Linked DNA regions of Homo sapiens. The protein of the gene in region 1 interacts with the protein of each later gene in a biochemical or structural test. Each region holds a gene or a part of one and is shown on either strand. Other genes may lie near its edges.

The links.
Region 2: the proteins of CYFIP2 (region 1) and FMR1 form a complex in vitro, tested with the Homo sapiens proteins (one study listed by BioGRID and IntAct).

Annotation. Positions count from the first base shown.
Region 1 is NC_000005.10:157,263,101-157,280,744, forward strand, and holds the start of CYFIP2 (cytoplasmic FMR1-interacting protein 2), read left to right. Parts: upstream 1-3,022; 5' UTR 3,023-3,095; exon of another isoform or gene 3,096-3,484; intron 3,485-3,680; exon of another isoform or gene 3,681-3,846; intron 3,847-6,223; exon of another isoform or gene 6,224-6,483; intron 6,484-17,644. UniProt on the Homo sapiens protein: Involved in T-cell adhesion and p53/TP53-dependent induction of apoptosis. Does not bind RNA. As component of the WAVE1 complex, required for BDNF-NTRK2 endocytic trafficking and signaling from early endosomes.
Region 2 is NC_000023.11:147,928,919-147,939,633, forward strand, and holds part of FMR1 (fragile X messenger ribonucleoprotein 1), read left to right. Parts: intron 1-1,029; coding exon 1,030-1,123; intron 1,124-1,209; coding exon 1,210-1,326; intron 1,327-3,506; coding exon 3,507-3,677; intron 3,678-3,766; coding exon 3,767-3,845; intron 3,846-7,585; coding exon 7,586-7,695; intron 7,696-8,547; coding exon 8,548-8,682; intron 8,683-9,180; coding exon 9,181-9,243; intron 9,244-10,715.

The DNA.
Region 1 (17,644 bases):
ACATGGACAACATGTGGGCCACAGCTTTGCAAGTACCAAAGCAATTCTTATTGATATCCTCTACCATTTCATTGCTGATGCACAGCTTGGGGTTGGATGTGAAGGAAATCTGAAGGCAGTAGACAGACAGCTATACATTTCAGTGGCAAAGTTTAAAAATGTCACCTATGGGTGTTCATTCCATCCATTTTTACTGAACTCCTGTTAAGTACCAGGCTCCAAGGATGCAATGGGAAAGCAAGACAGACATATCCCTGCTCCCTTAGATTTTATGGTCTCATGGTGGAATACAGGGAAGTGTGTTGACAATTATAATGCAGACTAATACGTGGGGTGATAGAGGGAGCCCAGGCAGCTAAGGACACATAGACAACTAATCTCAAGCTAACCCAGACATGTAGGAATCTTGGAGGAAGCGACATCTAGAGGAATACCAGGAAGATGAACAGAACTTCATCAGGTAAACTGGGAAAAAGTGTGGAATGTGGAGGGAGGGAATGGGGGGACAGAAACTGCCATTGAAGAAGCCTTGCATGTACGAATGTCGAGCACAACAGAGAACACAGCAAGTTTGAGGAACTAAAAGCTGTTCCTTTTAGCTGAAGCACAGCAAGCTTGTTCACATGGAGAGATAGCTGCCAGCTCTTAAAGACCCTCTCCGGCCACTGGAGAGTTTGGGCTTCATCGGGGGGCAGTGGGGAGCTAGGGAAGTGCCTTAAGCCTGGGAGGGACGTGCCCTTTAACTCATGTAATTTTCCACATTCAGAGGGAAGTTGGAGAGCATCCAACTTACTTCACTTAACAGGTGAGGAAACAGGGGTGAGGCTCCTTGCCTAAGATCATTCTTCTGTTAGTTGCAAAACTAGAACCAAAAGGCAAGCCTCTGGATTTCCAACACAGTGGCTTCAAAAGACCATACTGCTCTCCTTTATACACAAATAGAACTCAGAGGTCGGAGTTATTTTTGCCTAAGATCTAACCAAATATATATGTAATAGTCTTTTCTGTTTTTAGGCAACTTGTTCCTGAAGGTGAAAAGACAGGGAAGGAACAACAGGGAGAAATACGTCTTCCAAAAAACTATACCATCTGCAATAATATGCCCCTTAGAATGAAAATCTGATTTATTGGGATTCTCATTGTTAAGTATTTGTAATCACTGAACTTGAAATCCCAAGGATCACGGTGGAAAATGAAACATTTTTTAAAAAGGAAACCTCAGTTCTGTTTTTAAACCCATCCTCCACAAACACCCCCACAGCTTTTCACACTGAACCAGGGAAGAAATGTATGTGTGTGTATATATATATATATATAAGTCATTTTTTTCCGAAATAGCAATTTGAATTGGAATTAGCGATTTAAGATCAAACCACAAGGAATTATGGATTCTGAGCACGTGGGAAATAAGGTGAGATCAGTAAAGGAAAGCAAAGGCTTCCACAAGTCCTTTGCTGGAGCTTGAATAACGGGGCTCCTCCACAAATTGCCCTTATTAGGAACAGCTGAGTGATTAAGTATAAATTTGTGGGCCTTAGGAAACCACTCCTTATATCTACATACACTCCACAATGTCTCAAATGTTTTCAAATTATTTACCCTGTAAGGTATAAAGGGCAACTGTTATTCCCTGTGTTGCAGATACGGTGACCTCTGTGGAGCAGAGTGGTGAAGTGACCTGCTCAGGTGTCTCAAGGTTAGAATTTGGTGCAGCCTGACTTCAGCCTGGTCTGAAGGCCTACCAGGCTGGATTTCAATGAGAATTGTTTCTTTCTCTTTTTCTTTTCTCTCTTTCTTTCTCTTCTTTCTTTCCTTCTCTTCTTTCTCTCTCTTTCTTTTTCTTTCTTCCTTTCTCTCTCTCTCTCTCCCCCCGTCTCTCTCTTTCATTCTTTTTTTTTTTTTTTTGAGACAGAGTCTCACTCTGTCACCCAGTCTGGAGTGCGGCGGCAGGATCATAGCTCACTGTAGCCTCAATCTCCCAGGCTCAAGCAATCCTCCCACCTCAGCCTCCTGAGTAGCTGGGACAAAAGGTGGATGCCACCACACCCATCTATTTTTTTTTTTTTTTAATTTTTAGTAGAGATGAAGTTTCGTTGAGTTGCCCAGGATGGTCTCCAATTCCTGAGCTCAAGCAATCCTCTCTCCTCGGCCTCCCAAAGTTTTGGTATTACAGGTGTGAGCCACCGCTGGGCAGATAATTGCTTCTTTAAAGAGCCCGACACGGCAGATAAGCCTTGAAGAGAAAGGTACCTGTCCTCTCAGTGCTTCCTGCCACCTATTTGTCCGTTAGGCAATTCTTCCAGAATGAAGTTGAGGCAGGCCCCTGTAAAAGAGGTGGCAGCTTCAGGGACTCTTCTCCAGGGAACTGGAAGGGAGCGGAAGAACTTATTCTTAAGCGAAGGAGCCCTATCAGCGACCAAGCTCAATTGGTGGAAGGCCCCTTCCCCTAGCCCCAGTTGCATCTTCTGTCACTTCACCCTGCTCCTTCTCCTCAGAGCACTTTGGGCTGTAACTGGACGTTTGCTAGGTTAATTTACACCTGTTTCTCCTGGCAGGTGATAAAACTCCAAGGGGGCAGGACCCTGTCTTTTGTACACCAGTGCACACCCAAGTCCTGGCACGGTACTTGGAACAGGATAGGTAATCAATAAAGACTGGGTTGATAAAAGAGCACTTGGAAATCATGTGGGGCCAATAAGATCCGAACGCGGCCGAAGCTCTCGTCCTCGGGTTGCTGCAGGTGTGGTTCCCGGTGATGGAGGCCGTGGAAGAAGCCTTCCCTCCCTTTCCCGCCCCCAGGGCAGGAAGCCTGGGGGCTGAGCGGTCCTCCGAAACCGAGAGGCAGGTCCTGGGTGCGCCGGCGGTACAGCGGAGAGCGTGGAGAGACCCTCGCCGCAGCCATTTCCTGCCCTTTGTGTGACAGCCGCTGCGGCGAAGGGGCGGGCGCTGGGTGGGGGCGGAGCCGCGGCGGGCGGAGCAGCGGGGCCGGGGCGGGGCCGAGCGCGGCGCAGCGGAGCGGGGCAGAGCATCCTGCGCCCCGGCGCGGGGCCCTGCGGTAGCCTCAGGCCCCTCCCCTGGACCCGCCGCAGAGCCAGGTAAGCGGCCCTCGCAGGCCTCGGGCCGGGCACGGGGACTAGGATGCCGCCGGGGACGGGGATGAGGCCGTGAGGATGCGCGAAGGGCCGCCCCCTCTCCCGGCCCGCGGGGGGCGCTCGGCGCTGTGCCCGGGCTAGCCCGAGGCCCGGCCTCAGGCCCCACGCGGCCCCTTTCCCCCTCGGACCCACCGTGCGTCCCGCGGCACGGACCCTCTGCCCGGGAGGCGCGGGCACATCGCGGAGCTCCGGCGCGGCGGCGGGGGAGCCGCAGCAGCAGGTGCGCGGCCTGGGCCGGAGCCGCCAGCCCGGGAGGAGGCGGTGCTAATCTCAGGGACCGGAGACACCTGCAGCGGCCGCGAGCCCGGCAGCGGCGACATCCTCGAGTCCAGGTACTGCAGAGCGCTGGCCCCTGCCTCTGCCGCCGTGACCACCGTCACCTCCCCCAGGGCCAGCGAGAGCCGCCTGGGCCCGCCTGGCAGCCGCCTCGGGCACACAGAACGTGTGATGGGTGGGGCGAGGGGCGCAGCGTCGATGTTTGGGGGCGGAGGGCTTTGATGAGAGAGGAGCAGGTCTGACCCGCTTGGAAGCTTTCTGGCCTACACTAGCATCGCTCACCAAGCTGGCTGCGGGCACGGTGGAAGTGGGGGAAGGGGATGAGTGGGCTGACTCCTGGGGGAAAAGGTGGTTTTTTTCTTGAGCTCTGAAGAACCAGGAAGATGCTTGCCTGTCTGTTGTGGCGTCTACTTTTCAGGTCAGCCCTACCCCTCACCCCAAAGAACAGCCCACCTATGTGCAAAAGAAGAGGAGGAGGTGCTCTCTGCTTGGGGATGGGGGCAGGTAGCATGTTCCACATAAGTATGGCCCTCTATATCCAGAACCCGGCTGGAAAGGACACTGACAGCCCAGGTGCCTCCCCAGCACAGGGAATCTGATTTTGACCTTTGCTTGCCTACTTTCCCCAGCACAGTGGAAACACTCACCAGGGCTGATGAGCCATCAGCTGTCCTTCCAGCTAGGCCAAGAATGGGACAAGGATCTTTTTCTGCTAGTTCCTGGGTGCCTGTGCCCTCAGCATGGGCAGGGAGACGGAGGCAGGCCTGCTGGCAGGAGGGGCAAATCAGGAGACTGTCGGTTCCTGTGTTCCCATTTCCTGCCTCCTGTCTGTGTCCCAGTTAGGGCAGTGGGTCTCACCTTACTCTTGGATACAGGCTGTGCCAGCAACCTGGGTCCCTGAGATCTTAGAGGGCAAAAATCAGGTCCATATCTTTGGGCAGGCCTGTGAAGGCCTTGATGGTTGCTTTCTCCACCATTAGACCCTCTCTCTGTGGCCCTCCTGGTGGCCTCCCACCTCCACTTCCATACAGTGCCCTGCCCTTCCCCCAGTCTCCAGTGTCAGAAATGGTTTTCAAGAAAGGAGCCAATGATTGTGTTTATCTTGAAGAGCTAAATACAAAAGAAGTTCCCATTTGATGCAGAGCAGGTGCTTTACAAGTCATTTGACCGGAAAAGAAACAGAGGATGGAGGCATTTTAATGGGAAACAAAGCTTTAATGGGAAACACTGTAGAAATATTTGCTATCACTAATGGTAGAATTTCAAACAGTGGGCTGGAAGTGGAGGTGGGGAGCTGGGTAGTTCTTTTGGGAACGGGTCCCTGAAATGACAATATCTAGCAGCTGTCAGCTCTGTATTTGGCAAGGGCAGCTTTGGCCCTGCAGGCAGGAATGCTGTAAGAGTGTGTATGCATGCATGTGCATGCGTGCATGTTTGTTTGACTGGTCAGGTGTTACTGTCACCAGAAGGCATTTTTTGAGCACCCAGTGTCCACTTTCGGGATGAGAAACTTGTGTACACAGGGTTCCTCGTTGGCATTGGCTGCCCTTTGCCAAGGCAATTATTAGACCTCAAGAAGATAGTGTTGTTGCTTACAAAGTCAGTGCCTCTAGCTAGTTGTGCGCACTGAGCCTCTGGCTGGGGGCATTAGCTCTCTGCTCACTAAGCTTCTTTATTATATTTCCTGGCCAGTTCTGACCGGTTCTGTAGGCACCCAAGGCTGCCTTGTTCAGTCCCTGCTGGAAAATGAAAAAGGAAAAACTTGCTTTAGGCATTAGGCCAAGAGTCGGATGTACAACCCAGTGGGGTTGGAGAGTTTTACTCAAATCAGATGCTGGCCCAGAGAAGGAAGTAGACATGAATTCAAAAACCGGTAAAAGGCCCTGGTAGAACACTACATGACCCCTCTGATAAATCATGCCCTCTCTGATGTTCAGTGGCCTCTGCTGCTGTCATCAACCAGAAAGCTGAATGAGATGATGAATCGGCTACAAGCTAATTAACGGGAAAAGCGCTCCTGGAAAACAGTACGGGTCCCAGTCCCTACGTTTAAAGATTGGACTACACTCTCAACGCAGCTTCTTTGGACCACTGTTGGCCCCAGGGGTCCACCAAAAGCGTCACAAAATGGCCTTTTGTAGCCTCCATGTGGCCACCGTAACAATGAGTCTATTTCTTTACTGGCAAGTATTAATTATTCACTTGTAATTGACAAAGCCAGACATCAGTCACCTCACTGGAGTCTTTATGAAAGGCTTTTGGTCCTGTCATTCTGAGGAGCAAAGCCATGCCTAGGGTCCAGGGGATGGCCCCTGCATCAGTAGTGAGATGGTGGGAGAAGGGGGGCAGGCTGCTGCCTTCTTGGCAGTGAATGGAGGCAGGGGAGGAACTAGAATATCTTTGGATGCTCTTACTACCCAAGGGGTGCATGAAAGTGCCGAGCAGAATGCTTAGCACATAGTAAGTACTAGCATATTTATGTATTTATTGTTATAATGTATTAATTACATAATCATTAAGAATTTGGCTTATGTATGTAATCAACCCTTGGCTATTACCAGCCCCTCTCCCTCCAGAGCTTTCCTGAATTTTGCTTTTTTGAGGGAAGTTGGTCTCTGTGACCAGTAAACCCAGCCCCAAGTTTACCGGCCGAAGGAAGGGAAAGTTAAGAGTGATAGGGCATGAAGTGAAAGGCTTCAGGTGGGAAGTGCTCTTAAGTAGCACAAGAGAGGTGGGTGGAACCTGAGTAGGTAGGGAGAAGTGGGAGGGAACAAGCCAAGCAGAAGCCCAGGGCCATTCTCACATTTCAACACGTAGAGTTAAGGAAGGGCCTCTTCCTCTGTGAGAATTCAGCATTTTGCAACCATCCAAAAATGTTGAGGGCATGCTTTGCTTCCAGGGCAGACAGAGCAGCACAGTGAGCATGGGACACAGGATCCCTGACTTGCTGTGTGCCCTTAAACCAGCCACTACCTCTCTGACGTTCAAAATTGAGCAATGGAAGGCAGCCTGCCCAACTGTTACCTGCCTGTCATCATGAAAGCCTGCGGATGAGGTAATGTCTGTAAATCCCAGTCTGAGAAAAAAAAGCCGTGGAAATAGAGAAGGAGCCTCCTGAATGTGTGACTCTTTTGGGTAAATGCCCTCCATTCCTTAAGAAACAATTTATTAATTATATATTGTGTGTCACTTTAAGAAGATGGATCTGTGGCCTCTCTGTACTGTTGAGCCAATGGGAAGCTTAAAGGCACTTTGTGATTCACAGATTCTGTCAAGGCCCCTGGATGGCCTTGTCTGTACAAAGACACTTCAGAATTCAGTCAGTGGGTATGGGACGCCTCCCAGGATGCAAAGAGCTTAGATATTGGCTTTCTAGCCATGGGCATTATGCTAAGGGCTGTGTGTGATGTACCTCAAAAAATAGCCATTTAAGCCATACTTGGGCCCTGGCAACAGAGGGTGCAAATTCTTGAAAGAAATTGTTTTGAGAAGGCAGAGCTTGAGTTCAGGCAGAATTTCTTGCAGGGATCATTCTGGTTGCGTGGCATTTTGATAGACTTTGGGCAACTCAGATACAGGCAGTGAGAGAGGGAAGTAAATAGGACCTTCTTGCGAGATGCCTGAGAAAGACCCAGTGATGACTTCATCAGTAGACCTTTTGATTCTGTTTGCGTCATTATTTGGTCATTGTAGAGCAATGGTTCTTAGGCTTTAATCTCTAGGTAAAACAGAGGTGTGTTTAGTCTGTCCATGTTCTCTGTTTTCTAAGTAAGGCAGGAGGTGAGGTCCTCTGCAGGAAATAAAGGTGATGGACTGGTTAGGAAACTTCAGGAGACTTCAGGGTTTGGAACAGTTGCCTATGTGGGTGGAATAAGAAATAAACTGGGGAAGAATGAGAGAATTGTCTAACTTCACTGAAGGCCTGGCTGAGATCAAAGAGAATTTGCAGGGCTGACCCTCAGAGAAGACATGCAGTAACTCTTAAGGAATATCCGAGAACTATTTTTGATTTGTGCTTTTAAAATATGATGCTTTAAGATTTGTTTTGGCAAGATATGAATGGCAAGATAAGAATTCAGAACTAGAGGTCAGCCCCCTATCTCCAAGTCTGTTATACTTCCATATGGGAAAGAGAAATGAGGACCTGCTTCTTAGGGTTTGAAGTGGAAACTATACGACAGAAGGATTTTCTAAAGAACTCTCCTCAGATTCTTATATTGACAAGGCAGCCTTGGATATGGGACCTTAGAGAAGCATGATATTTTAACTTTCTTGTTAATTTTTTTAAACCAGAAGTTAAGAATTTTGGTCATTGGCTCATGCAGTCAACAAATCATTCATGAAGTATTAATTAAGCAAGTAATTCCTGGTGTGTGCCTATCTCTGTGCTGGTTGCTATGGGTCAAACTCAGATAAGATGACTATCCTTGGCATTCTTAGCAATCCAAAGAATTAGTGAAATATAAAGCAGTTTGTCGTGCAGTTAAAAACTGTGGACTCTAGACTGTGAGTGCTAAGGGAGTGAGAGAAATAAAGGTCATTAAGGGGCTTGGCTGGTCAGACCTTTGTGGAAAAGGCATGTCTTCGTGTGGGCCATGATAGATCGGTAAGATTTGAGAAGGGAAGAAGACAGTCCATAAGGGAGTGGAGACAGTTTGAGCAAAGGCACAAAGGAAGAGTATCCTTGGACAGGTTTATTATGCCCTGTATACCTTGGCCACAGAGAATGGTCTGCATGATCCTTAACACATGTCTTTAAGGAAGCCCTTTGGATGGAATGTCTCAACTGTAGTCATGGTCATTTGCTTTAGTGTTGGGAGGGTCCTGAGAGAGGCCCAAATCCAGTGATTCTTAACTGGTTGCTGTTGTGGTTTTTTTAGTACACAAAATGGACAATGTTGACATGCTGAACACATCAGCCCCCACAGCCAACCCCCCAACTCTGCTCCATTCCTGCCACTCAAGGGAAGAGATGAACATGCAAGCAATAATATCACACAGAGATCTTGAACCCTCGCCTCACATACAATAAAATGTACCTTGTTTGCAAACCTCAGTGCTTAAGCTATTATTAGCACAAGTTACCCGCAATAACCTTCACAAGGCAGGTTTGGACATCATGGTTGAGAGAGAACCAAGGCTAACCTCCACATTTTACAGACAGAGAAATTTGCCCTTTTAGAGTGAGTGAAAATGTGATTTGGGGGCCTTTGTCTTCATACTGAGCCATGTTCGAGTTGTGGTTTCACATCGATGGAGCTGAGTTCCACGTGCTCCGATCTGGTGGCCAGACCTGAAGCCCTCCTCTTTGTTTCCGTAGCAGATGCATGGCTTCCCTTGTGAGTTTTAGCAGGTGCATCTGAGAGGCAGCTCCTCTCCCCACATACGCGTCATGTTGGTGTTCCTCATATGACAGCCCCAGGGCCCCAGCAGGAGCAAATCAGCAAGCCACCTTGGTGGCATGACTTCCCCTCCTGAGAGCATGAGGCCGTTCCCCTGAGCTGCTGGTAGCCTGGTTTGGTGTCACCACAAAGGCCACCTCAACCTTAACAACACAGGAAGCAGCTGGGCAAAATGGCAAACGAAGGGGAAAGTCCTTTAGCCCCCACCAAGATCTTTTTCTCTGTCTACTCAGTCTACTCATAAACAACGAGGAGGATAGGCCTTCTCCAGTGGCCCAAGTCGAGGCTGACTTGATTTCTCGGCTCTGACTGCAGGTCCCCTGTGTGGAGAGAAGCTGTAGGTGATAGGGCCTCTGGTCCCGGAGGACAGGAGCAGGGGACTGAAACAACAAAGACCACCTTGCCAGTCAGTGCTGGGTACCGGCCAGGTGTCTGAACTGCTAACAAGGAGACTTTGGGTGGTTGTCTTCTAAAGCAAATTATTAAATTTTGATCAAAACGATATATACAAATGTTTTAAAAAATCAAATAGTATTGAAAGCCTTATAATGAAAAACAACCATCCAGCACCCACCCTCCCCTAGAGGCTGCCACTTTTAACTCACTGTTTCTTCTAGTAGCTGCCTCCAGATCTCTAAATGATATGCTTACACTGCTGTTTCTCGATTTATCTATTCTGCACGTTGTCTATTTACTTCCTGCTGTGATGGATGGAGATTTCACTTTCTTACACCATCTCCCTCCCTCCCCTGCCCCCGTCTCTCAAGATAGGAAGAGCTCTATTTTAACCTAAATCAGGTTTAAAGTGTCTACATTATTAATATATATAAATGATGATCACAGACAGCCAAGTAAAGTCCTTTGATTATATTTCCTTTCTTAGAGGGCTTTTCATTTCGCTGCAGAATTTTTGTTGCAATACTTGTCTTTTTATTTATCTATTTATTTATTTTGAGATGGAGTTTCACTCTTGTTCCCCAAGCTGGAGTGCAGTGGCGTGATCTCAGCTCACTGCAACCTCTGCCTCCCAGGTTCAAGCGATTCTCCTGCCTCAGCCTCCCGAGTAGCTGGGATTACAGGCGTGTGCTATGACACCTGGGTAATTTTTTAATTTTAGTGGAAATGGGGTTTCACCATGTTGGTCAGGCTGGTCTTGAACTCCTGATCTCAGGTGATCCACCTGCCTCGGCCTCCCAAAGTGCTGGGATTACAGGCACGAGCCACTGTGCCTGGCCCTGTCCTTTTCTTTTAAAGCTCTGTGTCATATGAGTTATTCTATTGCAGTCCCTTGTCTTCTCAGGAAGTGCAGTGTTAACCCTAGCTCCACCCCTAACTAGCCCAGTGACCTTGCACAAGTCCCTTCTCTTTTCTGAGCCTTGGTTTCCTCATCAGTAGAAAGAGAGCTAGGCTCCCTTCTTGTTCTCATTCTAAACCTCAGAACCTATCACCCCACCCACCTCACAGGCAGTAATATTATTACTCCTCAGTTAATATTATCTGAGAAGTCTTTACTCCAGGGTGGGGCAGCCCCAGGACCTGACAGATGGCAGAGAAACCAAAACAGGCAGGGGCAGGGGGAGGGAACAAACAAGCTAGCTGGGCCTGCCCTGTATGGTCTAGTTCACCCCTGCAGTTTAGGGGGCTGCTCTGTGGGGTGGTATGGTTGTATCTATTACTCTTTTCCTCCCCTGCTATCCCCGTTGGTTTTTGCTCTCCACAGCCTCTGCTTGTAGGGGCATCATTTACAGTCCCCAAACTCCCCAAGCTCCTACTCTACCCCCAGCTCTCTTTGTACCCCTTCTGCTTATGTTACACTCAAAGTTTCCCAAAAAGTAGTTATAAAAATACTAACTTTTGGTAGCAGCTTTATTGAAATATAGTTTGCATACTGTACAATTCACTCATTTAAAAAATATAGTTCAGGGCAGGCATGGTGGCTCATGTCTGTAACCCCAGCACTTTGGGAGGTCAAGGTGGGTGGATCACCTGAGGTCAGGAGTTTGAGACCAGCCTGGCCAACATGGCAAAACCCTGTCTCTACTGAAAATACAAAAATTAGCCAGGCATGGTGGCAGGTGCCTGTAATTCCAGCTACTCGGGAGGCTGAGGCAGGAGAATCGTTTGAACCCGGCAGAGGTTGCAGTGAGTGAGATCATGCCATTGCACTCCAGCCTGGGGAACAAGAGTGAAACTCTGTGTAAAAAAAAAAAAAAAAAAAACCGTTCAGTGGTTTTTAATATATTCACAGAGTTGTACAACCCATAATCGTAGTCAGTTTTAGAGCATTTTAGCACCCCAAAAAGAAATCTCATGGCCTTTAGCACCACCACCTATTTCCCCCAACCCCACCCCTTGGCAACCATAGATTTGCCTATTCTGGGCATGTTTAATAAATGGAACAATACAATACGGGGTCTTTAATGATTCGCTTCTTTCACTTAGCATAATATTGTCAAAGTTTATTCATGTTGTATCAATATCAGTACTTAATTACTTTTTATGGCTGAAAAATACTCCATGTGGCTATACAATTTTTTATTTATCAGTTGATGCATATGTTAGTTCTGCTTTTTAGCTATTACAAATAATGGTGCCATGAACATCCATGTACAAGTTTTTGTGTGGACCTGTATTTTCATTTCTCTTGGGTGTATGCCTAGGAGTAGAATTGCTGGGTCAAATGGTAACTGTGTGTTTAAAAATTTGAGGAAATACCAATCGATTTTCCAAAGTTGCGGCACCATCTTACATTCCCATTAGCAACGGTATTCTCAGTTTCTCCACATCCTTGCCAACACTTGTTATTGTCTGTCCTTTTCATTATAGCCATCCTAGTGGGTGTGAAGTGGTATCGATTTGCATTTCCCTAATAACTAAGGTTATTAATCTTTCTGTGTGCTTATTGGCTATGTGTATATCTTTGGAGAAAAATCTGTTCCTTGCCTATTTTTAAAATCAGGTTCTCTTTATTAATGAGTTTTAAGAATTCATTTTTTAAATTTATTTTTATTTAAAAAAATTTTTTTGTAGAAACAGGGTATCACTCTGTTGCCCAGGCTGGTCTTGAACTCCTGGCTTAAGCGATTCTCCCATCAACCTCCCAAAGTACTAGGATTACAGGCATGAGCCACTGTGCCCAGCCAAGAATTATTTACATATTTTATATACTTAGCAAATACATGATTTGCAAATATTTTCTTCTATTCTGTGGACTTACTTTCTTGATGGCGTCCTTTGAAGCACAATTTTTTTTATTTTGATGTTTAGTTTATTTTTTATTTTGTTGCTTGTGTTTTTGTTGTTATTACATAATTCAAGGTCACAAAGATGTACTCTTATGAGTTTTATAGTTTTAGCTCTTACATAGATCTTTGATCCATTTTGAGTTAATTTATTATATATTACATTATTTATACCTCACACCATAAAACAAATTTTGCATGTGGGTATCCAGTTGTCCTAGAATCATTTGTTGAAAAGAATATTCTTTCTACATCTCTTGTCAATTGACCATAAATGTGAGGATTTATTTCTGGATTCTCAGTTCAATTCCATTAATTTAATCATTGTTCATTGTCTTCATGGTAACACCACACAATTTTGATTACTGTAGTTTTGAGTATGTTTTGAAATCAGGAAGTGTGAGTCTTCCATTTTTGTTCAGTTCCTCCCACCCCCAAGATTGTCTTGATTATCCTGAGTGAGTCCCTTGAATTTCCATATGAATTTTAGGATCAGCTTGTCAATTTCTGCAAAGAAACCAGATGAGATTTTCATAGAGATTATGTTGAATCTGTAGGTTAGTTTGGGCAGTATTGCCGTGTTAACAATATTAAGCCTTCCAACCTATGGACATGGGATATCTTTTTATTTATTTAGGTCTTTAATATTTTCAACAAGGTTTTATTGCTTTCAGAGTGTATGTTTTGTACTTATTTTGTTAAGTTTATTTCTAAGTATTGTATTATTTTTGATGCTACTATAAATAGAACTGTTTTCTCCATTTTATTTTCATATTGTGCATTGCTGGTATATAGAGATACTACTGATTTTTATATGCTGATATTGTATCCTACAAACTTGCTGAACTTGTTTATGACTTTCAATAGTTTTTAGTGGATTTTTCTTGGATTTTCTATAACAAGACTATGTTATCTGCAAATAGGAATAGTTTTACTTTTTCCTTTCTAATCTAGATGTCTTTTATTTAATTTTCTTGCATAATTACCTTGGCTAGAACTGCCAGTACAATGTTGAATAGAAATGCTAAGAGCAGACTTATTTGTCTTGTTCTTGATCTTGGTGAGAAAGCATTAAGTCTGATATTAGCTAAGAGTTTTTTGTGGCCACTTATTGTCAAGTTGAGGATATTCTCTAATCCTAGTTTTTTGAGTGTTTTTATCATGAAGGCGTTGAGATTTTGTCAAATGCTTTTTCTGTGTGTATTGAGATGATATGGTTTCTGACCTTTATTGCTATAGCTTATTACGTTAATTGATATTCTGATGTTAATGTTAATCCAATCTTAACATTCCTGGGATAAATCTCACTTGTTCATGATGCATAATCTTTTTTATATGTTTCTGGATTCAGTTTTGCTGAGGCACTAACTTTTATCGAGCACTTTCTACCAGCCAAGCCATTTACATGGACTAACTCATTGAGTTTTCAAAGCCTAAGAGATAGGAACTATCATTATCCCTTATACCAAAATGAAGAGAGTGAGGCTCAGAAAGGTTATGTCACCTACTCAAGGTCACACAACTAGGTATTGGCAGAGGTAAGATTCTAACTCAAGCTATCCAGTTCACCTCCACACTAAAATGCCTCTCATATGGATATCAGTGGTGGACATGGGATGATTTTCAGATAATACCCAGACCTGTGTTTATGTTCATTACTATGTTTTTTATGGCTCCTCTGTTTATGGCATATAATATTAGTTTTCTCTCTGTGATTGTGATATAAAGCTTCCTTCTAAAATGAAAAGTGGCAAAAAAGAGAATCCCTAGAAAAAAATATTAAGTAAGAATTATCCTGGCAGTTTATGGATATGACTATGTATTCTATGCTGATTTAAATTATCTGTATGGGTTTTTTCTCTTTTTCTTTTTTTTTTTTGTGACAGAGTCTCGCTTCGTCACCCAGGCTGGAGTACAGTGGCTCAATCTCAGCTCACTGCAACCTCCACCTCCCAGGTTCAAGCAATTCTGCCTCACCCTCCCGAGTAGCTGGGACTACAGGTGCGCACCACTATGCCCAGCTAATTTTTGTATTTTTATTAGGGATGAGGTTTCACCATGTTGGCCAGGCTGGTCTCGAACTCCTGACCTCAGGAGATCCGCCCATCTTGGCCTCCCAAAGTGTTGGGGTTACAGGCATGAGCCACTGAGTCTGGCCTTATCTGTGTAGCCACCAAGTCCGGTCTTATCTGTGTAGCCACCGAGTCTGGCCTTATCTGTGTTATTAATAGTGAAGGAGAAGGAATGGAAAAACTAGAAGTAAGGACATGGCCAACTTCAGGTCGTCTCCTCTCTCCTATGTTGTCAGGAGATTGAGGTGTGTTCATGAATTCTTTCATTCAGTACTTCCCCAGTGCCTAATCTGTTTGCAGCACTCTGCTAAGGTCTCTGCATTTTCAGTGATAGGTAAGAAAATGGTCCCTGACCTTGAGGAGCTTTCACATGCATGGTTCTACTCCAGAGAGGGCATGTTATGTTTTATTTCATGGGCAAACTCAGATTGATTGCTGGTGGCTTCCTGGAGCTCAGTATTTCATGAGGATTCTGAAGCTGTCTGTGGACTTAGTGGAAAATAGAGTCATTACCAATTAGCAATGTCTGTCCTGGCATGGGAGGAAGAAGTAGCAGTATTTGGGTTTTATTCTGGGGCCAAGAAAACATCATAGAGTGCATTTACACAAACCTGGATGGCATAGCCTACTACACACCTAGGCTATATGGTATATAGCCTATTGCTCCTGGGCTGCAAACCTGTACGGCATGTTCTTGTACTGAATACTGTAGGCAATTGCAACACAGTGGGAAGTATTTGTGTATCTAAACATAGAAAAGGTACAGTAAAAATATGATATTATAATCTTATGGGAACACCATCATATATATGATCCACTGTTGACTGAAGCATCATTATGAGGCAAATGACTGTAAATTTTTTTAATAGGAACAACCTAAATCTCCCTTTTATTTATTTTTATATTTATATATCTATATAATATTTTCTTTGTAGTAATATATGTATACATATGTGTATATATATGTATATGTGTGTGCAGTATGTTTGTGTGTGTGTACGTATACTTATATAGCCTCTGGCTGGAGCGCCATACGGACATGGAAAATATTTCCTGGCCTCTTGATGTTCATGAAACACAAAGGTGACAATTACCTAATCTTTCTAGCTTGCCAGAGTTGTGTTCTTCTTGAGGAAGGAAAAAGCAGCCAAACTGGGAAAAAAATATGTTTGGCACCTTTCAAAAAGGTACAAAACCAGGTGTGGTCTAGAAGAAAAGGCATAGAATTGGGAGTCAAGGTATCCTGTTTCTACCCTACCTCTGCCACTAGCTGACCATGTGACCTTGAATAAAAGTGTTTACTTCTCCATAACACAGTGTCCTCAGAAACACAGCAAAAATTATACCTGCTGAATTGAATTTGCAGGATAGTTGTGATTGAGAAAATCAATGTGAAAGATCTATAGAACTGAGATATTAGTGTAATAATAATAAACCTTCCTTTTTTTGGTAGGAGAATTGTTGGAGTATTTAATTCATCCTCTCTATTGAAAACAGGCCACAGACTAGCGAATGTTAAACGAAAGTATGGGAGGCCATTGTTTAAGACTAAGCTCCTGTACTAGGCCCCTAAAAACCAGACCAAATCAAAATGGAGTCACTCATGCTAAATGCCACTCTCTACCTGAGTCAGCATAATAAGCAAATCCTCTCTGCCTTAATCCTTACAAAAAAGTAACCTGAAGTAACTTGATGTTAACTAATCATTTATTTTTCTATTGTTGTGTTTTCTTATTCCCACCTTACAAAACCCACAGTTTTGCTATTGCCCAGTGGGAGCTTTCATTCTATTGTATAGAAAGGAGGTGCTTCAATTCATAAATCACAAATTAAGGACAATTAATTCTATAAATTTATTGTAATTTTGTCTTTTGACATGTCTTTGCTGGCTACTGTGTTAAGTATTCTACATGCTGTAGTTATATAATCAAAATAAACATTGAGGACAGGCACTATTGTAAATTGTCACCCTTACAAGGTAAGGAAACTGAGGCTCGGAGAGGTTAAGGAACATGCTATTGTTTATATAGCTCATAAGTGGCAGATGACAGATTGAAACCCAGAACTCAAGCTTACCCACTACACTAGCCTAATATTTCACTTCAGTAAAAAGTCTTAATATTTCATTTCTTTCCAGAAAAATCAAACAGATAATGACAATGCAAGTATTTTGCTTACAGAGAAACAGGGTTTAAGCTGTAAATGTCAGAACCTGCATTTCCAAAGCCATGTTCTCCTGGCAGTCGCCCTGCATTTATGGGACCCACCCCCCTCTTGCTTGGGGTCTGTCAGTCATGTCTGCCTGGGGGGGCACCTAAAGCCCCCCCTTCTCAGAAGCAAATTGCTTGTGTGCCCAATGTTATTATTACTTTTGGTGAAACCAGGCCACCGACTGAGTTTGTTATGAAGACACTGCATTTAAACCCATCATGAATGCCCGCCACTGAGAATTTGCAGCTGTGTTTGGTAAATGATGCTCCCAGAACACTGTTAACTTTTAAATATTTTATTAATTTCTTTTTCAAAATGATGAAATGGTCACATGTTCGTAGACCGAATATAAAGAATCATTCTCACTTGGAAGATTGCGTAACAGGCAGGACACTTGGGCAGGAAAGAAGTACGTTCTTATTTTCATTTATACCTCTGTTCAAATTTCCAGAATATTTTTCCTTTCTGATTGATGTGGATTTGGCAGTGCCTACCAGCACTTGAGCTAAAAATGTCGGATTTCCTTCTCCCTTAGGCACTGAATGATCTACCAATGCTCATAGAAATCCACTACAGAAGTTGTATTTGCCAGGGGAGAAGAAAGATAGCATTAACATAAACAGACTCCTAATTTATTTGCTTTGTAGGTTGTTCACTTACTTATTGATTCTCTTCAAGGGATGTTCAGGGGTACTATTATGCTACAGAGGAGAACTTAATGGTTATTCTGGTAAATGAGTATTTTTGTGTGTGTGTGTGTGATGAAGTTTTGCCCTTGTTGCCCAGGCTGGAGTGCAATGGCATGATCTTGGCTCACTGCAACCTCTGCCTCCTGGGTTCAAGTGATTTTCCTGCCTCAGTCTCCTGAGTAGCTGGGATTACAGGCACCCACCACCACGCCTGGCTAATTTTTTTTTTTTTTTTGTATTTTTAGTAGAAATGGGATTTCTACTAAAGAAAAATTGACCAGGCTGGTCAGGCTGGTCTCGAACTCCTGACCTCAGGTGATCCACCCGTCTCAGCCTCCCAAAGTGCTGGGATTACAGGCGTGAGCCACCACACCCGTCTGTAAATGAGTATTTTTTAAGTTTGAGTAGCCCAGAAGAAACCTAGTTACAGGAGAAAAAAAGGGAAGTTGGATAAGAGCTGGGAGCTTATAAACTGATCTAGGGGATTTTATGAAAAATTTGAAACATATATAAAATTGGATGGAAAAATACAGTAATTTCTATGTATGTGTCACACACAATCTATAGTTACTAACTCACTGCGAATTTGTTTCATTTCTA
Region 2 (10,715 bases), on another chromosome or scaffold:
GGTGGACTTTGGCAAAAATGGTTTGGTTTGCAAGAGCAATGGAGAAAAAACTTATTTAACTTTTCCTACTTATAGAATCAAGGCAGCCTTGCGCTTGTTTAAACTTACTTGGCTATACACGTGTCTGATGTACATAATGTACATTTGTTTTCTAAACTAACTTTGTTCATTCTAAGATTTAAAAACTGATCAAACAAATGTGATAATTCTGTCATAAGTCACAAACTATAAACGATTTCTCCGTTTTTTTCTCTTTTACCTAAAATGTTTTCAGATAAATGTGTAATAAGTAGAGCCAAAGAAGCTTTAAAAAGTCATCTCATCTTACAATCCTTGATCTGGAATAATGCTTAAAGACTATAGAAGAGACGCATTTTTATTTTTTACAGATTTTATTAAGTGAATACAGTACGTTTGATTTGGACATGTTGTTGAACATTAAATTGCAGTTCAGAATACATAGAAATCCTCCCTTTTCTAGAGATTGTGTATGTGTGTAAATTTTTGTGCCTTCTGGTTCATGTACGTTTCCTTCTCTCCCTCAAATCGTTTAGCAGTTTCTTACCCCATTCTCCGTGATGTGCTTATTTCATATTGCATGCCTGTATCAAAACATCTCATATGCCCCATAAATATATATACCTACTATGTACCCACAAAACTAAAAATTAAAAAAAAAGGAAAAAAAAAGGCCTGCAACAAGAGAAGAAGAAAGAAATCAGATACCCTGTAGGTAGCTATCTCCAAAAGTTTTCAATAGTTGACTTAAGAAAACTACTGACTTGTATGTAACTGAAATCAGGAAACCTGTAGTGTAGAGTGGTTCCCCTGAATATGTCTCTTTTGGTAATCTAAGCTGTATTTCAGAAATGTACAGAAAAGGAGCTAAGCTTCTAAATGGATATAGCATATTTTGCATAAATCAAATTTAATATGAATCCATGATTCTTGTATGTGTAAATCTGCCTGCATTTATTTATGTCAGTAGTTGGTAATTATTCATCTTAATTTTTTTTTTTAAATTTCTAGGTGTGCCAAAGAGGCGGCACATAAGGATTTTAAAAAGGCAGTTGGTGCCTTTTCTGTAACTTATGATCCAGAAAATTATCAGCTTGTCATTTTGGTGAGCATTTTTGAGTTGTTTATTTTTAGTTTAATTCATCTGGGGCAATTGCCTTGATAATAATGTTGTTAATTTAAATCATTTAGTCCATCAATGAAGTCACCTCAAAGCGAGCACATATGCTGATTGACATGCACTTTCGGAGTCTGCGCACTAAGTTGTCTCTGATAATGAGAAATGAAGAAGCTAGTAAGCAGCTGGAGGTATGTCACTTTCCCTAGCACTGCTTGTAAGGGTACCTAGGAACGATTAACTGTATCATTCCACAACTTGAATATGGGGAGCTTGTCATTTATTTACTGCTTCTTAACAATTCCTTAGGTTCTATAGTTGGAAAATTGTACAAAGCATAATCATACTAAAGTTTCCATGCCTGAGGTTTCAAAATTAAACAGCAGCTTATGTATATTAAGGGACTTCTGGTACTTTCACTTTTACTAGAAGTTTATCAAAGTTGCTAATAAAATGCGGCAATGCTTCTTCCATATAACATGTTGTCATTAAAAATACTAGAGAATATTTAAATATCTAATCATATTCCTCTCATTATGTATGTTTATCTTTGTTTAAAAGGGTATAGAACTTCTTCATTCTAATTGGTTGTCATTCTTTAAAACTCCTGTCTTCAGATTCCCGCCAGAGGCTATTTCCCTAACTTACTATTTTGTCTCTTAAGGTGCATTTTATCTACTTTTATTAATCCTCCAATAATTTTCATCACCATATATTTGTTTTCATTGATAACTATCAAGTACGTCCATCCATTACTATAGAAACTAAGTGGATCTTAGATGAATGTGCCAGCTCTACTATATTCCTGTCAAATTCCAGAGTTCGTCATCATTATTCATTAGAAGGAAAACACCACACATTTGAAATAGTAAAGAAAAAAAGGAGTTCCAAACTGCATTTTAGGAGAAAAGGTAGTCAAGACTGTGTTCTTATAAAAACCCTGTGAAATTTGCCACCTGTCAACTTGATGTATGATGCTGAACTCTTAGCAGAAGGGGAAAAGTTTAATCTCCTTTTGCCACTTTGTTTTTTCTTAAGGCCATGGAGGTCTGTTTAATTGGTCTTTGCTCTCATTCTTTCTTGATGTCCCTGTGTTCATGATTTTGTGGTTCCTTCAGTGATTCTCTCATAACTTTTAGCCCAGAGCTGCCTCCTTACTTTGATTGTGAGTATTATGAAAATATACTCATATGCCTCTTAAACATCGAATTATTCTTAAATGATCTATCATACTTTTGGCTAACCATTTATCAGTGAATTATCAATGAAAAAGAACGAACCAGATTAATGAACCAGGACTCAAAAAACATGACTTCTTGAAAAGTCCTAGAATTATTTTATAGATTTTATTACTCTAGTCTAAAAAAAATGGGTATTGCACTTTTAAATTATTTATGCTAGTTGTATTCATTCATTCAAATTATCAGGTCTGTTGAACAATGAGAAACTAGTATGCATGCCTATCTTTCTTCACTACTAATATTAAAGAGATTTACATGTTCCTATAAGAAATTCCCATTTTTCAACATGAGCCACTAATACGTTTGGTTTTCATTAATGGCATGCTAGAACTGAACACTAAATTTTGATAATGGTATTTAAAGACAGTGGTTATCCACAAGTTTGGGATGTCAGTGTAACTTAGTTTCGTCATCACTGGATATTTACAAGTGCTCATCATAATTGTGGATCCAGATCACAAGGTCTTACGGACTCTGGTCTCATGTTAGCTTTCAGATGCTTACTAAGTTTTTAATTTTTGACATTTTTTGATTATTCAGTTTAACTACTGTACCAACAATTTTTGATTCCTTAGGTTTTGAGGGAGGTGTCATTTTAATGTCATTTCAACAGAGGAATGTTTAGACCACAGTACCTAATGATGTTATAAAAAATGGCACTGTTTCCAGAAAATATATACTGATACCTTTTAATAAAAATGAAGCGAATAAAATTTTCTATAAAGATGATATTTAAACATTTTTTTACCTAAATAAGTAACATTGAGTTTGTCAGACCGAGTGAGCTGGTTTTTACTGGGGAACATTTGACCTGCTTCTTAGTTATTATATTGCTGATGTCATTGGTTAACTAAGGCAGCCTTGTGATAAGTTTTCAGCAGTTACCTTGGAAAATGTCAACAAGTTCTTTCCTATTAACAAAAACATATAAAATGTCATAGACCTTTAGTAACCTAAAAAGTACTTAGGCTGTGAGAGGTATTTTCTAAAACCTGTTAGTTTTAACCTAAAACTATTAATAATTTATGGACCCCTCATATACAGGGTCAAGATAATTTACATGGCTGGCCTAAATACAGTTGTCGTAATAGTTGATAAAGTGTATTCATCAGACGTCCATTTCTCTTCAGAGTTCAAGGCAGCTTGCCTCGAGATTTCATGAACAGTTTATCGTAAGAGAAGATCTGATGGGTCTAGCTATTGGTACTCATGGTGCTAATATTCAGCAAGCTAGAAAAGTACCTGGGGTCACTGCTATTGATCTAGATGAAGATACCTGCACATTTCATATTTATGGAGAGGTAAATATTTTACTGCATAGTTTTTTTTTCCCCAAACAAGTATTTCAGCTGGCTAATCTTTTGTCTTAAAATGTTTCCCCTTTTATTAGGATCAGGATGCAGTGAAAAAAGCTAGAAGCTTTCTCGAATTTGCTGAAGATGTAATACAAGTTCCAAGGAACTTAGTAGGTAAGTCAGAAGTATCTGTTGACATATAGTACAACAACTAAGTTTAGGTAAACAGTTTATTTATAGTGATAGAATTCCATTTTTTCTTACTGGAGGGTATCATTTAATTGAAACATAGTCTTTGAAATATGATCTGTTCTTTTTTTTTATTATTTAAGTTTTAGGGTACATGTGCACAATGTGCAGGTTAGTTACATATGTATACACGTGACATGCTGGTGCGCTGCACCCACTAACTTGTCATCTAGCATTAGGTATATCTCCCAACGCTATCCCTCCCCCCTCCCCCCACCCCACAACAGTCCCCAGAGTGTGATGTTCCCCTTCCTGTGTCCATGTGTTCTCATTGTTCAATCGATCTGTTCTTACAGCATACAAAAAAATATTTGTTAAGTATGATGCTCAAAGGTTACATTTTCAGAAGGTATTCAAAAGAGATTGCTTTTCTAGTTCAAACCTACTAATACCTGAAAGGATAAATCTTGCCCAGCCCTCCTGACTGTATACCTTTTATATCTTAAAATTAAATAATTTTTCAAAATGAATGATATTTGGGGACTTTATGATTTGAAATAGATTTGTATTTGATCTTTCTTATGGGACTATAAAATGATAGCATTCATTTTAATTATCTCAGGGTTGAAGATCTGAACATAGGTTACTTAAATCTAAAAAGTTCCAAAGCTAGAAGAAACTTCAGATGTCTCTGGGACTTTCTGCAAAGTCAATAGTAATTCTTCATTTTGACTTGAGTAGTGTTTTATCACCATCACCATCGTGAGTATCAGCAAATATTTAGGAGCTCTTCACCAATACTCCTAAATGCTGCAGATATCTTTAGTAGAACATATCAAAACCAGGTGCAGTTTTATCAAGAAAGCTACATATGTTTTTAATTTGTAAATAAAATTGGGACATACTGCCTATATGTTTTTTATCTTTTAAACTTGAGATCATGGCCATTTTATATAAAGTAATACATGTTCTTTGGAAACTTTAAAGAAGAAAGCAAGGACTTCTCATACATTCTGTTTACGTAGTTTCAATGCTAATTTAGCCTGCTTTTTTGTCAGCATAGACTCATAAACATCTTCCTTGTCATTAACAAACACTAGAAATGATAAATGTATCTCCCAAAGAAAATTAGCTTGAAGATAAAGTGCAAATAGTAGGAAAATAATGCAGAAGTGTTAGCTCAACTGTGTACTACAGACAACTGGAGAAATGTGTTTGTAATGTTACTAAGGTAACTTGCATACCAATTGTATGTGTACAGAATGTATGCATAGCGCAAGATAAAGTGCTAATCTCAAGACAGTTGGGTGATGAATAATATTTATTTTCTTCTTTACAGCTTGTCAAGCAATTGCATACCTTTTGTAGTTAGAAAGGTTATTGTAAATTTAGGAATTCTTATGGAAAAAGAGCTGGTAGTTGTTTTGTTTTTTTTTTTTAATAGCAAATGAGTAGAGAATTATGTGTCAGATTCATTAAAGTTGGTTTTGAAGATGGCATGATGGTAGTGGGGAAAGTGCTTGGGCATTGGAGTTGGATCTGGATTTCAGTCCTACTTTATTCTTTGGTGGCAATGTGAGCGTGGGTCACTGTCTTAGCCCCCCTGAGAATTATTTTTCTTACCTATCAAATGTGATAATAGGATCCACCTCATAGAGTTGATGTGATAATTAAATTGGAAGATATAGTAGGGGACAATTCTGGACACAGTAGGGGACTCTGTTCTTCACCTTATTCAAAACAACTCCATTTCAGTAGAACAGAATCACAGTAAATTGCTCTTTGGGATTTGGAAATAAGTGTAATGTAGAATTGGATTATTTGCTATTAAATATTAAAAGTAGATTCTACCTGTGGTTACCTGGAAAGAAGAGGATCTCAGAAATAACCAGAAAGACTGCTAAAAGTAAATCAGCCTTGTTTTTGTTTTGTTGTTTCTAGTTAGTAAAATGAGATAATTCTGTTTTAGAGATGGTCCACTGCAACACTGGGAACGTTGGAACTTTTCAGAAAGCATTTTTGTGTAAGATTCTGCAAGGCAGATCTTTAGAGAGGTGTCATAATCAGTTTTGCATGTGTTTTGTTTGAGTCAACCAACGTTATTTGTGATCTCTATTTTTCACAAACTCTCTTTGGTATGTGCACTAATTTATCTTTTCATTAAAATTGGATTCTTCACTCACTAAGAATGAATTGGTATGACTATTCAGTCAGCTATAGTTAACACACAGTACTTAGGATAATTAAGATATTATCTTAATAAAAACATCCCCAAATCTCATTTTTCATTTTGTTAACTCACTTAGATCTTTATTAAAGTCAACATTAATTCATGAAAATGTAAGTGTTGCAGTTTAAAATCAAACTGTGTGAAGACTCCAAGTAGCTTCTCTCACCTCACCTTTCCCCTTTTCGTTATAGAAGAACAGAAATAATTGACAGAAGGACCTAGACCAAGAATCCTGATTTAATGGTGTCAGATCTGTTCTATGACCAGTCAAAGAGTTTCTAGGGGTGAATGAGGCAGCCACACACAGCAAGAATGTCAAAGCTATGCTCTGATTACAAGAGCCACAAGAATTTTTTGTGAGAAGGCTTTTCACTGAGTTCTTATCTAGCATTGGCTCAAAGCAAATTTTTGCTTCCATCTTTTCCCCCAACTTTGCCTTGAGCTTTGCCTTTAAAGGCGAAAAGGAAAAAATGGAAGATGAGATGGTGAGGGCAAGCACATGGTGGATGTGGCCAATGTAAGGGTACTTAGGTACCTTGGGTGAGCCCTCAGAATCAGATGTAGTTCACATGTACATTTCCAGAATTAGTAATTCTTAAGTTTGTAATGTCTTGCTTTACCACTCGTGTCATGATGCAAATGAAAGCAGTCATTTTCCAGTAATGTATATGATTGTAAAATAAATAAGGAAATGATCAAGTACCTATTTTTTACTGGTACTTGAAATCCCAAGTTTTAATAGATGTTACTGAAAAATACTTAAATTGGTTTAAAGCTTTTTCATTGTGGTTTTGAGTTATCTTAAAGTGGGTTTTCTTAATCTTTTACTCTGTGACTAATCCCTTCACTTTTTAATACATTGCTAAAGTTTGTAAGTAATGCACAGGAGTGATACTCTGTTAACACATTGACCTTGAAGAATTTGTATTCCTTTTGGATGTATGTATAGCTGCTTAAGCCACTTTCAGACTTAGATTATCTTTTATAAATGTGCCTTCCATACAGAATTCTGAAAATATTTACCATGGACAAAGAAGCAGATTTAAATCAGGTACAGACAAGAATTGAAAGTGTTGAATAAGTGAATATATTTCCCATTCTCTCTACTTTTTTCTTAATTCTTATAGAACTTTGCAGAAAGAATGATACATACCACAGTACCAGCAAGTTTAAAGCGTACCCTTTTGTGCAAAAATAAGAGGTTATCTTTGAACTGCCTTAAAAATCCAAAATTACCCTATCAGTTTGCAAGTATTAATCAACTCTGGTACCTGACCAAAGGAGTTTAAACAATGATGTCCTAATTAAACAGAAAACCAGATTAACCATCTTGTTGAAAAGAGTCTCTACTTTGGTTTTGAAATCTTACAATTCAATACATACACATACACATAAAAATATCTATCTATATGAATGTAATAGTTTACAGTAGGGCTGTGCTTACTGCTTTGAGGTATGTGTTTTTAAAACCAAACTTGATTTATTTATTTCTTAGGCAAAGTAATAGGAAAAAATGGAAAGCTGATTCAGGAGATTGTGGACAAGTCAGGAGTTGTGAGGGTGAGGATTGAGGCTGAAAATGAGAAAAATGTTCCACAAGAAGAGGTATGTTACAGTGCGAATATTTTGTGGCACATATAATAAAAGTAAAAGTTTTTTATGTGATATGTTGAGGACCTCTAATATGTGCATAAAGTGAATGCAAATATTCTGATTATCAAGCATGCCTGCTGTAATTAATGTTATAATTGTAGATAATGGCCCTTCTCTGTCCTCTAATGCAGTGAGTTTGGATTAGTCACTTTATTGAATTCTTTTTTCCTGATCTTTAAAATGGGTAGTTATAAATTTTTAAATATGAGACATACATCACTGGGTCGAGTGTTAATGGCAATTTAATAAAATAATATATATGTAAATGCTTCGTAAAGCACTTTGTAAATGTTAATGTTGCTGACAAAAGCAAAATTGGAACACAGGTTTTCTGGCTTTCATCTTTTCACTTTTTTAGTGTGGGGATTGTGTAGTATGTGTGTTTATTCTGTGTGCTTTAAATTTATTTCTGTGCTTAATATCTCTTCCCCATCCTCCTTACCTTTAAATTCTGTAACCCTTTTATCTTCATAAATATATGCTTTTTGTAGCAGCTTTTAAAGTATTTGCATGGGGTAGAGAGGTGAGGATGCACCTTTCTGTGCAATAGTACTCTTAAGATACTGTCTCATCAAAGAGCCGTAATTTTCACATATTGTCTAGCTTTCTTTTTGAAAGATTCTTTTAGCTAAAGTTAAATCTTTTTTTTCTGCGTACAATTTGTATTCGGTAATTTTATAAACCAAAACTGTTTATAATAACTTACATTTTTTAAAAATATGATGATTGATAACACTAATAGAGCTAAATAAAGTCTTAAATTGGTCCTTTTTTTCTCTTTTGTGTTTTCTGTTTTTTACCAAGGAAATTATGCCACCAAATTCCCTTCCTTCCAATAATTCAAGGGTTGGACCTAATGCCCCAGAAGAAAAAAAACATTTAGATATAAAGGAAAACAGCACCCATTTTTCTCAACCTAACAGTACAAAAGTCCAGAGGGTAAGAATTACTTGTCACTTTGAATTACAATACAAGTAATTTGTCTCAGATGTCACAATTGGTATTTTGGATGTTTTCTCTGGTTAGACTTGTAGGCTACTTATGTTCTATTTTTTTTCCAAATGTAATTGCCAGCTTATGAGATACTACAAATTAGTGTGATACATACTTTTCAATTTATTCACAGTAACAACTCTTATGCCATAAACACAAAATAATGGGGTTGCATTTAGTGGTCACATTTTTCTTTTGACAGTGGACTCTCTTTTTTCCATGCCTTCTCTCTTTAAATTTTGCAGGTATCGTAGCTCAAAATACACCTTCTGTTAGTTGCATTAGTTACTACTTGAACCATATTTTAGAAACTAATTTTCTCTGTTTGAACTAATCTGTTTAGAAATGGGTTTAAAAGTCCTGCAGTGAAAGTCCTGCGTTCAGGCTTCTGTGTATCGTTTGTTATAGTTAATGACATCCCTTGCATTCCTTATACTGCTTTAGGTGTTAGTGGCTTCATCAGTTGTAGCAGGGGAATCCCAGAAACCTGAACTCAAGGCTTGGCAGGTAGGAAAACATTCCTTGAGAAATACACTTTCAGTTTATATTTTAATGTTTATTCCCCTTGTTAACAAAGATTACAAATGATCCTCAGGATTAGGGACTGGAGGGAGGAGTGTTTGTGGGTATGTGGATCCATTGCCCTGGAGTTAAAGCTTAAACACCTTCATGCCGCTTGTAAGGCTTTTCCTAATTACTTGTCTAGTTATCATCTTTAAATTATCTTCTCCCTTGCACTCTAGAGAACCTTAAGCCATACTGAAGTACTTTGAGTTCTCTGAACATTCTCGTGCTTATTTTGCTTCTAGACATATGTACAGGTTTACTCTGCCTGGAATGCTTTTTCTCCTCCACATGTCACCTCATTTTGACCTTATTCCTTACAAAGCTTTCCTTGTGTACTTGCCGAAGATCCCCACCCCCTTGACTGGTTCAAGAGCCTTCCCCTTCTGTTTTGCAATGTGCTCACCCCTAGCATAGCACTTAAACATAGATGTTTATTTGTTGATCTCCTCAACCACATTGTAAGTTCTTTGAGGGCAGGGAGAGCTGGTGAGAACTGTTTATGGAAAAAAATGTTGTGGACTCATGGATTAAAAGCAAAGGTGCCATTTTACAAAGAGGACTATAACGGCAAGTGGATTGGATATGTCTCATTGCCGGGCAGCCCATTATTCCAGAACACAGAGTAACTTTTTTCTGGGGTCCGTACTAAAGGCCATCATTCCATTCTTGCCTTTCTTCATTTTAATTTACTATTCAGGTCTACTCGTGAAGTGCTTAAATTAGAGTGGCCCTTGGGGTACTCCAGCAGTTTAGACATGTTGCAAGAAAAGATATTCGTAAATAATTTGCTCCGAAGTCAATCTAACTAAATCTGTTACATAGGATTTTAAAGCTATTTTGGTGATATTTGACCCAGAGGGAAGGGTGTAGCATTCATTCCATCACATGGTATTTTGGGAAATAATACAGTTAAAGGCTTTTGTAACAAATAAAGCTTGTTGGAGAAAAACCCAACATGCAGAAATGAATTGCCAGTTATTAATTTGCACAATTGTTTCTAGGTTTCCCTATAACTTGTGACAAGAAGTAGTTGTTTTTTTTTTCCCTCTTAATATATATATATATGGGCTAGGAGTACAGACATTTAGCATATGCCTTTTAAAAATCTGTTCTTATGTTAAGTAGTGTCCATAGAGAGAAGTTCAAACTTTCCTTGTGATTCAGCCTTTTAAAATTTTCAGAGTACATTATTGAAATGTGTATGGGCTTGATAAAACTTAATGCTTGTCAATGTACCTATTTTTTTGTCTCACAGATTATTCAGTGCATTTTTATCCTGATGTTTTTGTTTGTATTTTGTGTGTACTCTATTTACTTGGTTAGCAGAAATGATTTACTTTTTACTTTTGTACCCTTGGTATTTCATTTTGATTTTTTTTTTAAGAATTTGATCGGCCAGGCGCGATGGCTCA